Linked DNA regions of Homo sapiens. The protein of the gene in region 2 interacts with the protein of the main gene of each other region in a pairwise test. Each region holds a gene or a part of one and is shown on either strand. Other genes may lie near its edges.

Region 1 (6,572 bases), on a different chromosome or scaffold from region 2:
ACTACCCTCTCCCCTCCACACATATGCACTGGAGGACCAAAAGGACAAGGGTCACCAAGCTTGTGGTTACTACTGCTTTCACAGCCACTTCTTTGTCCTCCCCTTCCCAGGGTCCAAGCCTTCCCTTCCCAGTTGGTTTAAGAGTCAAGATTTACCCTCTTCACCCTTCCGCTCTGCATGTAGCCTCAGCCTCCCTTCCCCCACCACAGGGTGACAGCCTTTTCCGCTGGAGCCCTGCCTGGTACAGCCCTGTGCATCTTTCCACCTCATCAACTTTTCATCTCTTTGTAAACCAAATCGAGAAGTGTCTCCCTCCTCCCTGCCTCTCTCTCCTTCTCCGTTATTAGCTTCATGAGTGGGGACATTAATGTATTCACTAGACAATGTCTTCACACCACTGTTTCCTGTAATTACAGTCACTTCCCTTCCACTGTCCTGGCTTATTTGACTGAAAAGTGCTTGGAGGAGGGACAGTGTGGACAAAAGATGCAACACAGGCTGAGATTGAGTAGTGAGTAGTGTAATGTTAACATCCAAGAAAGTAAAACAAATAGTCACCTCTGCAGCAGCTCATTAATGACTGGTAACACATAGAGGTCAATGTGCCAGAGCTTAAAAAAAAGTACTGATACAATTGAAGGCCCTTCCACTATAAATAGGATGGAGGATGGGTCACTGTGTCCGTATTACCAATGACAGTCACCCCAAGAAACACAAGCAGCTGCATCCACCCTCTTTCAGGGGGTAGAGCCACTATACTTCTCATGTAGATCAGCCACATTGTCACTGGAGACTCGGATCCAGCCATCCTCCCGCACGTGGTAGAGGTTGACTGCACCTCCTGAGTAGGCATCTCTGTAGGTGGCTTGGTAGATGGCTCGACGGGCCAGATCATAGGCCTGCTCCACTTCCAGGTCATAGGAATAGCCCCGATCCATGACCCCATATGCATACACAGAGCCAGAACCTACAGAGAAGGTGGCCCCTGAAATCCGGTTCCCTTCACTGTCCACGTAGTAGAGGCCTGGAAAGGGAGATGAGGTTAGCAGGAAAAAAAAAAAGATCACCCCTTTTGATATCTAATTCATATGCCAAGGCAGTAGTTCTTTTTTTTTGAGATGGAGTTTTGCTCTTGTTGCCCAAGCTAGAGTGCAATGGCGCAATCTCGGCTCACCACAACCTCCGCCTCCTGGGTTAAAGTGATTCTCCTGCCTCAGTTTCCCAGGTAGCTAGGATTACAAGCGCTCGTAACCACGCCCAGCTAATTTTTGTATTTTTAGTAGAGACGGGGTTTCACCATGTTGGTCAGGCTGGTCTTGAACTCCTGACCTCTGGGGATCTGCCCTTCTCGGACTCCCAAAGTGCTGGGATTACAGGCGTGAGCCACCTCGCCCGGCCAGCAGTAGTTCTCTTAAAACCTAGAATAAAATTTAAAAAAATAAAAAAATAGGCCGGGCGCGGTGGCTCATGCCTGTAATCCCAGCACTTTGGGAGGCTGAGGTGGGCAGATCACCTGAGGTCAGGCGTTTGAGACCAGCCTGACCAACATGAAGAAACCCCATCTCTACTAAAAATACAAAATTTGCCAGGCGTGGTGGCACATGCCTATAATCCCAGCTACTCAGGAGGCTGATGCAGGAGAATCACTTGAACCTGGGAGGCAAAGGTTGCGGTAAGCCAAGATCGCGCCATTGCACTCCAGCCTGGGCAACAAGAGTGAAACGCTGTCTCAAAATAATATAATAAATAGGCCAGGCGCGGTGGCTAACGCCTGTAATCCCAGCACTTTGGGAGGCCGAGGCGGGTGGATCACGAGGTCAGGAGATCGAGATCATCCTGGCTAACACGGTGAAACCCCGTCTCTACTAAAAAACAAAAAATTAGCCAGGTGTGGTTGCGGTCGCCTGCAGTCCCAGCTACTCAGGAGGCTGAGGCAGGAGAATGGCGTAAACCCGGGAGGCGGAGCTTGCGGTGAGCCGAGATCGCGCCACTGCACTCCAGCCTGGGAGACAGAGCAAGACTTTGTCTCAAAAAAAAAAAAAATAATAATAATAATAATAAATAAATAAAATAATATATATATATATAAAAGAGAAACCCAGGGAAGCCAACATAAATACAAGATAGGACTTCTATAAAATTATTATTATTTTTTTAAAAGCTAGCTGAGTGTGGTGGTGCATGTCTGTGGGAGGTTGAAACAGGAGGATTGTTTGAGCTCAGGACTTGCAGGCTGCAGTAAGCTATAATCACACCACCACACTCCAGCTTGGGCAACAGACTGAGATGCTGTCTTCAGGAAAAAAAAAAAACCTGAAGGAATAAAATTTAATATTAAGACTCCAGGATTCTACAACATACCACCCCATCTCACCTTATATTATAATAACTACCTTGCCATGTTGCCGATCCTCTCAGCACACCCACAAAACAAGTACATTCCAAATGACTTAGGTTTCAAGCACAGAACTTCAGACACTGTGAAAGATAACATTTAAAACATAATCCCCGGCCAGGCGCAGTGGCTCAAACCCGTAATCCCAGCACTTTGGGAGGCCGAGGCAGGTGGGTCACCTGAGGTCAGGAGTTCAAGACAAGCCTGACCAACATGGAGAAACCCTGTCTCTACTAAAAATACAAAATTAGCCAGGCGTGGTGGCGCATGCCTGTAATCCCAGCTACTCAGGAGGCGGAGGCAGGAGAATCACTTGAACCTGGGAGGTGGAGTTTGCAGTGAGCCGAGATCGCACCACTGCACTCCAGCCTGGGCAACAAGAGTGAAACTCTGTCTCAAAAAACAAACAAACAAAACATAATCCCCACTCCCCCATCAAAAGACCCCATAATCCCAGTCACTTGAGCCCAGGAGGTTGAGGCTACAGTGAGCTGTGATTATGCCACTGCACTGCAGCCTGTGTGACAGAAAAACAAACTCCATAATGCCAGAACTCAAAGAGTTTAGACTATCTGGAGAACAAGACATACTTTACACAGGAGGATAATAAAGCCTAGAGTTTGTAATCACATTGTAAAGACCTGCACTGTCCATATGGTAGCCACTAGCCACACAGGACTAGTTGAGCATTTGAAATGAACTAGTACTACCTGCTAACATAATATTTTGGATTTATTAGGTTAAACAAAATATATTGAAATTAATTTTTTTTAATTTTAAAAGCGTAGCTAGTATAAAATGTAAAATTACATATATGGCTCACATTATATTTCTATTGCTGGTATAGACCAGGGTTTGGCCAGGCCAACTGCCTTTATTTTTGTAATTAAAATGTTATTGGAACAGAGCCACTGTTTCCATACTGTCTATGGTTGTTTTGTGCAACACCGGCAGAGTTAAGTATTTGAGACAAAGATTTAGGCCTGCAGACCTAAAATATTTACTATTTGGCCCTTTATGAAAAAACTAGCTGACTTTTGGTACAGATGAAAATTTAGACAAAGTGTTCAATCCCAACTGCCTACTGGATCCCTCCAGCTGGATGTCTTTGTCATCATGTACAGATTCAAACTTCCTAAACTTAGATACCAGTGGTTCTCCATTACCTACCACACTCATCTCTCTTGTGCGCCACAAACCCACGCTTCCTCCTGTCTTCTGAAATTCTGCCAATAGCATCACTACTCTTTTTCCTGTTTCAGTGATTCTCACATCTCACTGTGCACTAGAGTCATCTAACAAAGATTTTTTTCAAAAATGCACAGGACTTACCCTAGGTATTTTTTATAACTGGTGTGGGGTGGGAAACAGGTATGGAACTTGTTTTTTAAGTCCCCCAGGTGATTTTAATGCAAGCCAGCTTGAGCACCTCTGCCCTTATTGGTTTTCAGGTTCAGGTGATTCTGATGTCTACCTTACTCCTTTCTCTGGCCCCTCCTCAGCCCCAGTGCCATGCTCTCTTGCCTAGAGGGGGGTCATCATCTGGTTCCAAAGTACCCTTCTGGCTTTATGGCTCACTATTCCCCTTCACCCACTTAGTTCCAATTAAACTGGACTTTCAGTTACTCCTCAAAAGCTCATGCTTCTTTCCTCCCTTTCTTTGTTATGTTCCCTTTCCCTTTTTTACATCCAGGACAACCACCACCAATCCATGAAGTCTTCCCCAATTCCTCCCATCATAAGTAATCTCTTCCTCCTCAAAACTCCTTCCGCATTTGACTGGTTCTTTTTATTTATTGATTGACTGACTGATTTTTGAGACAAAGTTTCTTTCTTGTTTCCCAAGCTGGAGTGCAATGGCACAATCTCAGCTTACTGCAACCTCTGCCTCCCAGGTTCAAGTGATTGATTCTCCTGCCTCAGCCTCCTGAGTAGCTGGGATTACAGGCATGCACCTCCAGGGTTCAAGAGATTCTCCTGCCTCATCTCCCTGAGTAGCTGGGATTACAGGCATGTGCCACCACAGCCGGCTAATTTTGTATTTTTTTTTTTTGAGATGGAGTCTTGCTCTGTTGCCCAGTCTGGAGTGCAGTGGCACGATCTCAGCTCACTGCAAGCTCCACCTCCTGGGTTCACGCCATTCTCCTGCCTCAGCCTCCCAAGTAGCTGGGACTACAGGCGACCACCACCACGCCCAGCTAATTTTTTGTATTTTTAGTAGAGATGGGGTTTCACCGTGTTAGCCAGGATGGTCTCGATCTCCTGGCCTCGTGATCCGCCCGCCTCGGCCTCCCAATAATTTTGTATTTTTAGTAGAGACAAGGTTCCACCATGTTGGTCAGGCTGGTCTCGAACTCCTGATCTCCGGTGATCCACCCATCTCGGCCTCCCAAAGTGCTGAGATTACAGGCATGAGCCACCATGCCCAGCCAACTGGTTCTTTTAAAAACGGTATTTATCAGGCCAGGAGCTGTGGCTCACGCCTGCAATCCCAGCACTTTGGGAGGCCGAGGCGGGTGGATCATGAGGTCAGGAGATTGAGACCATCCTGGCTAACACAGTGAAACCCCGTCTCTACTAAAAATACAAAAAATTAGCCGGGCGTGGTGGCGGGCACCTGTAGTCCCAGCTACTCGGGAGGCTGAGGCAGGAGAATGGCGTGAATCCGGGAGGCGGAGCTTGCAGTGAGCAGAGATGGCACCACTGCACTCCAGCCTGGGCGACAGAGCGAGACTCCGTCTCAATAAAAAAAAAAAAAGGTTATTTATCTTATTCAGCCTTGGGTTAACTAGTCATCCTTTGGTATATGAAGGGGATTTGTCCCAAGACCCCTGCATATACCAAAATCTATGCACACTCAAGTCCCAAAGTTGGCCCTGCAGAACCTGCATATATGAAAAGTTGGCCAGATATGGTGGCTCACGCCACCCAGCACTTTGGGAGGCTGAGGCAGGTGGATCACCCGAGGTCAGGAGTTTAAGACCAGCCTGGCCAACATGGTGAAACCCTGTCTCTACTAAAAATACAAAAGTTAGCTGGCAGGGTGGCGGGTGTCTGTAATCCCAGCTACTCGGGAGGCTGAGGCAGGAGATCACTTGAACCCAGGAGGTGGAGGTTGCAATGAACTGAGATCGCGCCATTGCACTCCAGCATGGGTGACAAGAGGAAAACTCCATCTCAAAAATAAATAAATAAATAAATAAATAAATTGGTCCTCTGTATATTTGGGTTTCAAATTCTGGGAATGTGTATTTTCAATCAGAATTAGGTTGAAAAATACCTGCGTATAAGTGGACCTGAGTGATTCAAACCCATGTTGCTCAAGGGCCAACTGTAATATGAGGCAAGGGGCTGACTCACAATGAATGGGACAGGGTCATCAGGAAGGCCTCTTGAAGAAGGCACTGTTTAAATGATGCTCAGTCTCCCTGGATTTTCCTTGTTACCCGGTCCCTGTACTCTTTTACACTGTTTCCATCACCTAGAACAAATCCGCCAGCTAAAGGTTCAAAGCAACATTTCCAAAATGCTTCCCTGGATCACGTAAAATGTATGGAACTGTCTTTTCCCACCTTTCAGAGAAAAGCATCTCAATTTCCAAAGTAACAAAGTGAGCTCCTCTCTCACATCCGGTTTTTAATTTCCTTTCATCCTCCATTGGGTAGTAAGTGGATACTCCCTACAGCCCTTTCTATTCTCGTTTGAAAGCAAGTGAAAAAGTGGTAGGTACCCTATAATTGTTCTATAAGATAACTAGGTATTTAGTAAGCAGGTAAATGAATGAAGCAAAATCAAAAGGAGGAAAGAATAATTATTTTTAAGCATATGGAAGGGAAAATTAGAAGGTGACTAGCTATACTCCAACTTTACTAAACGGGCAATTCAAAACTGGCTGATGAGGAAATGACATTAAATACAAAGTTGAACTGTCTGGCAAGTTTCTTAAATGCTGGAAAGGAAAAACAGGCTAAGGAACTTATTTTCAGAGATGATAGAACCGGACCTAGCATGATTGTAAGGGTGATTATAACCAGCAAAGAAATAAAAGAAATGAGCCCAGGACTAGGCGCAATGGCTCACTCCTGTAATCTCAACACTTTGGCAGGCTGAGGTGGGCAGATCACCTGAGGTCAGGAGTTCAAGACCAGCCTGGCCAACATGGTGAAACCCTGTCTCT
Region 2 (7,700 bases):
TCTCAGGGTTAGTTAAAAACCTTCCCTCCCAACCACCACCTCCACTTCCCGCCATGGGAAAACAAAAACAAAAACCAAACAATGCCAAGGTCAGGAGAGTCCTTGGAAGCAAGGGAGGGGGCGGTAATGGCTGAGTAGCAAGAGGACAGCCTTAAAGCCACCAGGCAGAGTCCCCGAGTATCTGGGAGGCTGTTAAAGTATGAGATAAGAACTTTCAATCCAGTAAATTAATCTACCAAGTTGGGGCTTAAAGTTAGAGAGAGATTCTCATTTTCACTGCAGTTGCTCATACCCTTGCCTGTCCTCCCCATCTGGTAGGCCCAAAGCAGTGGTAGCAGAAATGCCACCCACACCCCTACATACATAAATACACGCACACTCTCCAATGGCCACTTGGCAGATCCTCATAAGTCATAGTTCTATGGCTCATAGTCTAAGAAGCACAGTCTTACATGAAAACAATCTACCTCTAATGGCTGACATTCTAGCAAAGAGACAACAGCTTTAACATATCTGTGCTTTGTTGTGTTTGAAAAGGAGCAAATATTGATTGCTGCCTTGAACCTAAGTCCTAACGCTTGATAGTAACAATAATAAAAATACTGAGATATAAACTTTTATTTTTAAAAAAGTTCATTCATAACTAATTTCTATGCATATATTATTATCAAACTAACAGAATTCTGTCTTGATGTTTAGGGAGAATATTTCCAAAGAGCTTCTAGGCAGGTAACCTTATGGAAAGCATGGCAAGAAAAAGACCAATGTCACAAGTAATATACTAGTAAAAACCAGATGACTTTGAAAAGAGAACACATGCTTCTGTGGACACAGGCTCCATTCCTACACCTGGCAATAGGTGTACACTGGCAAAAGCGTATACAAGTACATGCTGTTGGTTCCAAAATAACAGTCCAGGGAGTCAATGTTGTTTATCACAACCACTAGAAAATAATATGGTAACACTGTCTTCATTCACTCACACATCTAACAAATATTTCCTGAACATTTACCATGAGCCACACACTGTTATAGGCAATGAGGCGGGGGGCAGGGGTTGGGTAGAACAGTACGAACAAAACTCCCTGCCTTCGTGGAGCTTATATTCCAGCTGAAGAAGACAGACACTAAGTAAAATACATAGTTTGTTTATTGGTGATAAGTGCAAAGGAGGAAAATGAAATAGGAAAGAACATGGTATGGAGGCTACAGGGCAGATTTTCATTTTAAACAGGGTGGTCAAAGAAGGCCTCATAACATTTGAGCAAAGACCTGTTATATAGATATCAGAGGGCAGAAAGGCCCAGAAGACGGAAACAGCAAGTGCAAAGGCCTGAAGTTAGAAGGTCTGATGAGTCCGCACATAATAAAGAGGTGGGTTTGGCTGGAGAGGAAGGAGTAACACAGAGAACATTGAGAGATGAGGTCAGACGGTAATAATAAAACCAGAATACGGCTGGGCGCGGTGGCTCACGCCTGTAATCCCAGCACTTTGGAAGGCCGAGGCGGGCAGATCAAGAGGTCAGGAGATCGAGACCATCCTGGCTAACACGGCGAAACCCCGTCTCACTAAAAATACAAAAATAAAAATAAAAAAAAAATTAGCCGGGCGTGGTGGCGTGCTCCTGTAGTTTCAGCTACTCGGATGGCTGAGGCAGGAGAATGGTGTGAACCCAGGAGGCGGAGCTTGCAGTGAGCTGAGACTGCTGCACTCCAGCCTGGGCGACAGAGCGAGACTCCGTTTCAAAAAAACAAAAAACAGAATACACAGAGCCTTGAAGGCCATTGTAGAAGTCTGGCTTTTGCTGTCAGTGATTCTCAGAGTCACTGGAGGTCTATAGCTGAGGAATGCTATCCAACTTTCCTTTTAACTGGATCATTTTGACTCCCTCCCACTCCAAATGGTGGAAGAACAAAAGCAGAAGTAGAGATGCTGCTGGCCAGAACCAAGGTGACAGCAGCGGTATTCCTACTGTAAGAAGTGGTTAGTGGTTAGATATACTTGAAAGATAGCTTTTGCTGATGCATTAGATATGAGATATGAGGGAAAGGAAGAAGCCAAGATTACTACAGGGTTTTTGGCCTGGATGGTGCTATCACTGAGACAATGCAAACTTATTAAGGAAGAATCCGTTTTGTGGAAAAGATAAAGAGTAGTTTTTAAAATGTCAAATTTAAAACATGAAAGATACCAAATACATTATTGAATTTGTGGATCTGAAGTTTGGGGGTGAGGTGTGGACTGGAGACTAATTTCTGAAGAGCTCAAGAAAACCATAAGGCGGGATAACAGAGAACACAAAGGATTAAAGGACCTAGTCCTGAGCACGCCAAGATTAACAAATTAGAAGCATGTGTTGGGGGGCATTTAAGACGGACTAATACGAACTTCTCTAAAGTGGGGTTAAAAATAGACATTTTTCTATCTTTAGAGCCTAATACAGTGCCTGGGAAATTATAGGTGGTAAATAAACAGGAGAATACTTCGACAGGAATTTAACGAATGTCTATTCCGTTCTAGCAAGAGCGCCAGGTACTGCGGAAACCGTAAAGAACAAGTGCAAATTCCTGACACCTATATTCTGGTAAGCAAGCCAGGGAGGATTAACTGGTGGCAAAAATCAAACATTAACGCCGAAATAGCCTTCCCAGGAACCTATTAAACTCCAACTTAACACATAAATAAAGGTGGTATTGGGCTTATCTGGAGGCTTCGGTGGCTATCTCCCATCCCTCAGCTGGAGCCAGGCCAATGCAAACTTCGCTCCTAAATGGCTTTCACCGGCAGCCAACGCCAAAGCGCCTTAAATCAGGGCCCTGAGGTCCAGGGAGTGAGACTGGACTCCGTCAGGACAGGGAGAGGGCGCCAGGGAGTGGTGACTGTCCTTATCTGAGCCGAAGCCTCGCGAGCCTCCGACCACCCCTCACCAGCCCGGGGCCCGGCAGCCTCACCTTACAGTCCATCTGTCCGCCTGAGGCTCCGTACTGCAGCAGGCGAGCGGGTTTCCGTGGAACTAACACAGCATTTTAAACCAACCCGCTCCCCGGCGCAGTAGCTCCGGTACGCAGGCGCACCCGTGGCAGGGCATGTCGGGAACTGTAGTTTTCCCGGCCCAGGAGGGCCCTCAGCCCTGGGCGGGACCCAGGCCGGCATCCGGCGGCGCTCAGGGAATGCGTAGCGCCGTGAACCGAATGGCGGCAGGCTCCACTGTGCTCGCGAGCGGGGCACGCCGGGATATGTAGTTTCCGGCGCCTGCCCTCCGGGGGGTCCTGTGCTGCCCACTTCACAGTGACTTGTCTCCGCCTGGTGAACTCGCGGTGTTCTGCTAATCTTGGTAAATACATACCCTACAGCAGAGTAACGAGCATAAAAATTGGTTAAAAATTCAGAGCTTAAACATTCTTCTCGTTAAAGGAAAAATCAAGTCCCTCTTCGTCCTCGTCCATGATGGCCACATGGAGAGTAAAACACAGAAATCTGTTTTCAGGTCTTTCGTCTCTTCAGCATAAATTATTTCTTGCCCTGTCTACAAGTTAATAGGTATTTGTAAATCTGAGTGTAAGTAGCTATGAAACGGAAAAGAGCATTGAGCTGTCCCTGGTTTTTTTGGTGGTTTGCTTTTTTGAGATAGGGTCTTCCTCTGTCGCCAAGGGTGGATTACGGTGGTGCGATCTCGACTCACTGCAGCCTCGACCTCCCGAGCTCAAGCGATCCTCCCATCTCAGCCTCCCCAGTATCTGGGACCACAGGCGCGCGCCACCACGTCTGGCTAATTTTTGTATTTTTTCGTGGAGGCGGGGTCATCACCATATTGCTCAGGCTGGTCTCTTTGGGCTCGAGCCATCCGCCCACCTCGGCCTCCCAAAGTCCTGGGATTACAGGCGTGCATCACCACACCAGCGTTTCTGAGTTGTTTTGCTTTAAGAATATGTATTCTCACTTAAGGGAAAGCCTTCTATAGTGCAAAGACGCGGCTTTGCGTTTTGGTAGCTGGACAGAACACCTGTTATCCCTGCCAGGGCAATTAAAATGCATTTCTCTCTTCTCCCTGAGAGTGCAGCCAAGAATCACTTCAGCCCTCTCATATAAGCAATCAGATCCGAGATGAGAGCTCATTTACTTAGCCTGACAATTGATCTTGCTATTCTAATTCTTTTCATAGCGGAGCCTCAATGTGAGATGCAGAGACTGCCCATCAAACCACAGCCATATTCATCAAGCTTTGAGCCGATCCGGTGAAGAGAAATGAGCACTGCATACATTATTCAGAGAAAGGGACCAAATAAAGCTTTTAATAGGAAATGAAAATGTATTTTAAAGCGTCAGTGCAAACAGCCAATTATTTTCATTATGTATGTTTTATCTTGCAATGACCTCTGGTTTATCAGTGGAATTAAGAGATGAGTGATACATGTATCCACGTGTTTTTGTGTAATGAGAGTTTTCACCTTCTCCTCAAATCTCCATATTAAGCAGCAGTCAGGGAACCAAACTGATTAAATTCGTGTTTTTCATTTGTTTTCCCTTATTCACTGTCTGGCAAACCGTATAAGAACTTAAGCAATTACAGAGTTAGAGAAAAGGACCTGAAGTCTTCAATAAACTTGAAATCAGGGAGTATAGTCCTCCAACTTTGTCCTTTTTCAAATTTGTTTTGGCTGTTCCTTTAACTTTCTAGTTCCTTTACCTTTCTCCCAAATTTTTTGAATCAACTTGTTGATACCTACAAAAATTCTGCCAGGATTTTGATTGAAATAATGCCAAACATACCGATTTTCTTGCTGATTTCCCTCTTGATTTTCAGTTGATAAATAGTTCTCAGACATTACCCCATTTATCAAACAAGATCATTTCATTCACGGAAATCCTAGATATTCCATGAAGACCACATTCTGTTTCACTGCGATAACCTCCTAACTGGTTTTCCTATTACCCCTTCCAAAGTATCCTTCATATGGCTACCAGATCTTTTAAAAAAGTAAATCTGATTATCTCAGGTCTTTGCTTAAAAACATTTAATCGTTCCCCCATTGAACGAAAAGTTTTCCATTGAGCAGGATGAAGACCAAACTGGTAATAGCTTCAGCCAAACCCTCCAGCCTACTCTGCACCTAGTGCCCCAGTGGAACTCTGAAGTCAAGCCTGCTACCATAGAATGTCTTTGTGCTTGCAGGTTATGCTCACTCTGCTGCGCACGGCCTTCCTCTTGTCAGTCTCACCAGCTCAACAGAAACTTAGCCTCTTCTGTGAAGCCATTCTATTCTCTCCCAAAGCACTTCATAATTGTCAATGTATCTTATTTCCCCTTATTTGAGCTGTAAGCTACTTAAGGACAGGAATTTGTTTTTTTCTTTTCAACACCAAGTACAATGCCCGGCACACAGTAGGGGTTTGGAAAGTTTTTGTTAGGTGAGTGAATGAATAAATTTTGAAACGGCTCTACTAATAGAGGCTGTGTTTCACTCTCTACTTGTAAGCCAGGAAAAGGCCTCCAAATAGAATATACGCTGCAGATGATTTGACATTGTAGTTACACGAATGGCAGTAAAGTTCCCTGCAACTACTTCCCCTTGGAGTTGGAAATGTATTCCGTGGACAAAGAAATGCAAACAGAACACCCAAAGTTTTCATATCTTGTTGGTAAAATAAAAGAATAAAAATGGCAAATTCACTAACTGGCTCCTCACCTTATGTGGGCAATCCAGATATTTTGGTAAAGTATTGGCTCTGGGTATAGAGATTAGGATTTGAAAGAGTCTTTGGCTTTTTAATGAACTGGTGAATCAGCCCAAGGCTGAGAAGATAATTCTTTTTTTTTTTTGAGACGGAGTCTCACTCTGTCGCCCAGGCTGGAGTGCAGTGGCTTGATCTCTGCTCACTGCAAGCTCTGCCTCCTGGGTTCACACCATTCTCCTGCCTCAGCTGGGACCACAGGTGCCCGCCACCACGCCCCACTAATTTTTTTGTATTTTTAGTAGAGACGGGGTTTCATCACGTTAGCCAGGATGGTCTCGATCTCTGGACCTCGTGATCCGCCCACTTCGCGTCTCCCAAAGTGCTGGGATTACAGGCGTGAGCCACCGCGCCCGGCCACGGCTGAGAAGATAATTCTATTAATTGAAATGGCCAAGGATAACAGTGCTTCTTATACGGTCTCTGTCACTTAGCTCCACCAACTAAATTTTATAGTCAGGTAGATTTTCACCTTGTTCCATTAACCAAACTTATGAATAAGGTCAAGGCTATGATGACACTGCTGCAGCTCTATTTTACCTTTCCTAAGATTAAAGTACTCTTTTGTACTTTATCATATCACCACATGATTCTGACTGTAACCTTTGGTGTAGTAGTTATATTCTCATTTTACTTATGAAGTAACTGACACCGGGGGAAGTTAAGTAACTTGCCTAAAGGCCATACAGCCAATAAGTGACAGAATGGTTATTTGGAGTTGGCTCTATCTCGCTTCAAAGCTTATGCATTTTGGTTAGACTCCATCTCCTACCATTCTCCACCCCATCTGACAGCAGTGGGGTAAGACAGAATTTTCAGCATCTAACTATTCAATGAGAAATATATGAATTAACTTCACACAATCAAATACCATGTTTATCAAAGAAAATAAGGAAATCCAGGTGGTGGTATGTGAGTATTTACTATGCCATTCTTACAAATTTTCTGTGTGTCTAAAATTATTTTCACAATAAAAATTTTTTTATGAGGAAAATGTCTATGTACTTATATGGAAAATTCTATAGGATATATTTTAAGTTGAACAAGTGAGGTATTGTGTAATGCCAGGGGGGATAAGAATTTTATATTTGTATAAATAAGCACTGGGAATATACAAAAGAAATAAAAGTACCTTTTATTACCTGTGTAGATAGTGTGACCATATAATTTTTCATCCAAACCAAGATAATGTATCTCTCCACATATCTAAGGTCTTCTTTGGTTTCTTTAATTAGTATCTTATAGTTTTCAATATATAGATACTATATTTTTTTTAGATTTGTGTTTAAGTTTTCCACTTTTTGTTACTAGTTTTTTTTTTAAATTTCAAATCCATTGTTTGTTGCTAGTACATAGAAATATAATTGACTTTTGTATTTTGAGCTCTTATCCTATGACCTTGCTAAACTCTCTTACTAGTTTTAGGACTAGCTTTAGAATTTTTTTCGTGTGTTATTTGGGATTTTTTTACATAAACAATTCTGACATCTGCAAATAGAGTTTTTTCTTTCCCTTTCAATCTGAATGACTTTGTTTTTCTTGCCTTGTTGCACTGGCTAAAACTTTTACTATGATATTGAATAGCAGTGGTGAAAGAAGGATGTCCTTATCTTGTTCCCATTAAGTATGATGTTAGTCATCGGTTTTTACAGTTGTCCTTAATCATATCCAGGCAATTTCCTTTCATTTCTAGTCTGCTGAGAGTTTTTTTGGAAAGAAATTTGAATTTGTCAAATGCCATTTAGATAATCATGGTTTTTTTCTTTAGTTTGGTAATCTGGTAAATTACATTGGTTGAGTTTTCCCACATTGAAACAATCTTGCATTCTTTGGATAAATCCCACTTAATCATTCTGTATTTTCCTTTTTTATATATTTCTAGACCCAATTTAATAATAATTTGTTGAGTATTCTTGTGTCTGTGTTTGTGGGGGATATTGGTCTTTCTTTTTCTTTTTTTTGGAAA

The links. Proteins that work in one complex are often made in the same cells at the same time.
Region 1: the proteins of CCDC150 (region 2) and PSMB5 interact in binary tests that used the Homo sapiens proteins (3 or more experiments, as listed by UniProt).

What each region holds. Positions count from the first base shown.
Region 1 is NC_000014.9:23,025,352-23,031,923, forward strand, and holds the end of PSMB5 (proteasome subunit beta type-5), read right to left. Parts: intron 2,479-6,572; coding exon of another isoform or gene 2,394-2,478; intron 1,025-2,393; coding exon 738-1,024; 3' UTR 505-737; downstream 1-504. UniProt on the Homo sapiens protein: Component of the 20S core proteasome complex involved in the proteolytic degradation of most intracellular proteins. This complex plays numerous essential roles within the cell by associating with different regulatory particles.
Region 2 is NC_000002.12:196,635,031-196,642,730, reverse strand, and holds the start of CCDC150 (coiled-coil domain-containing protein 150), read right to left. Parts: upstream 3,017-7,700; 5' UTR 2,965-3,016; coding exon 2,953-2,964; intron 1-2,952.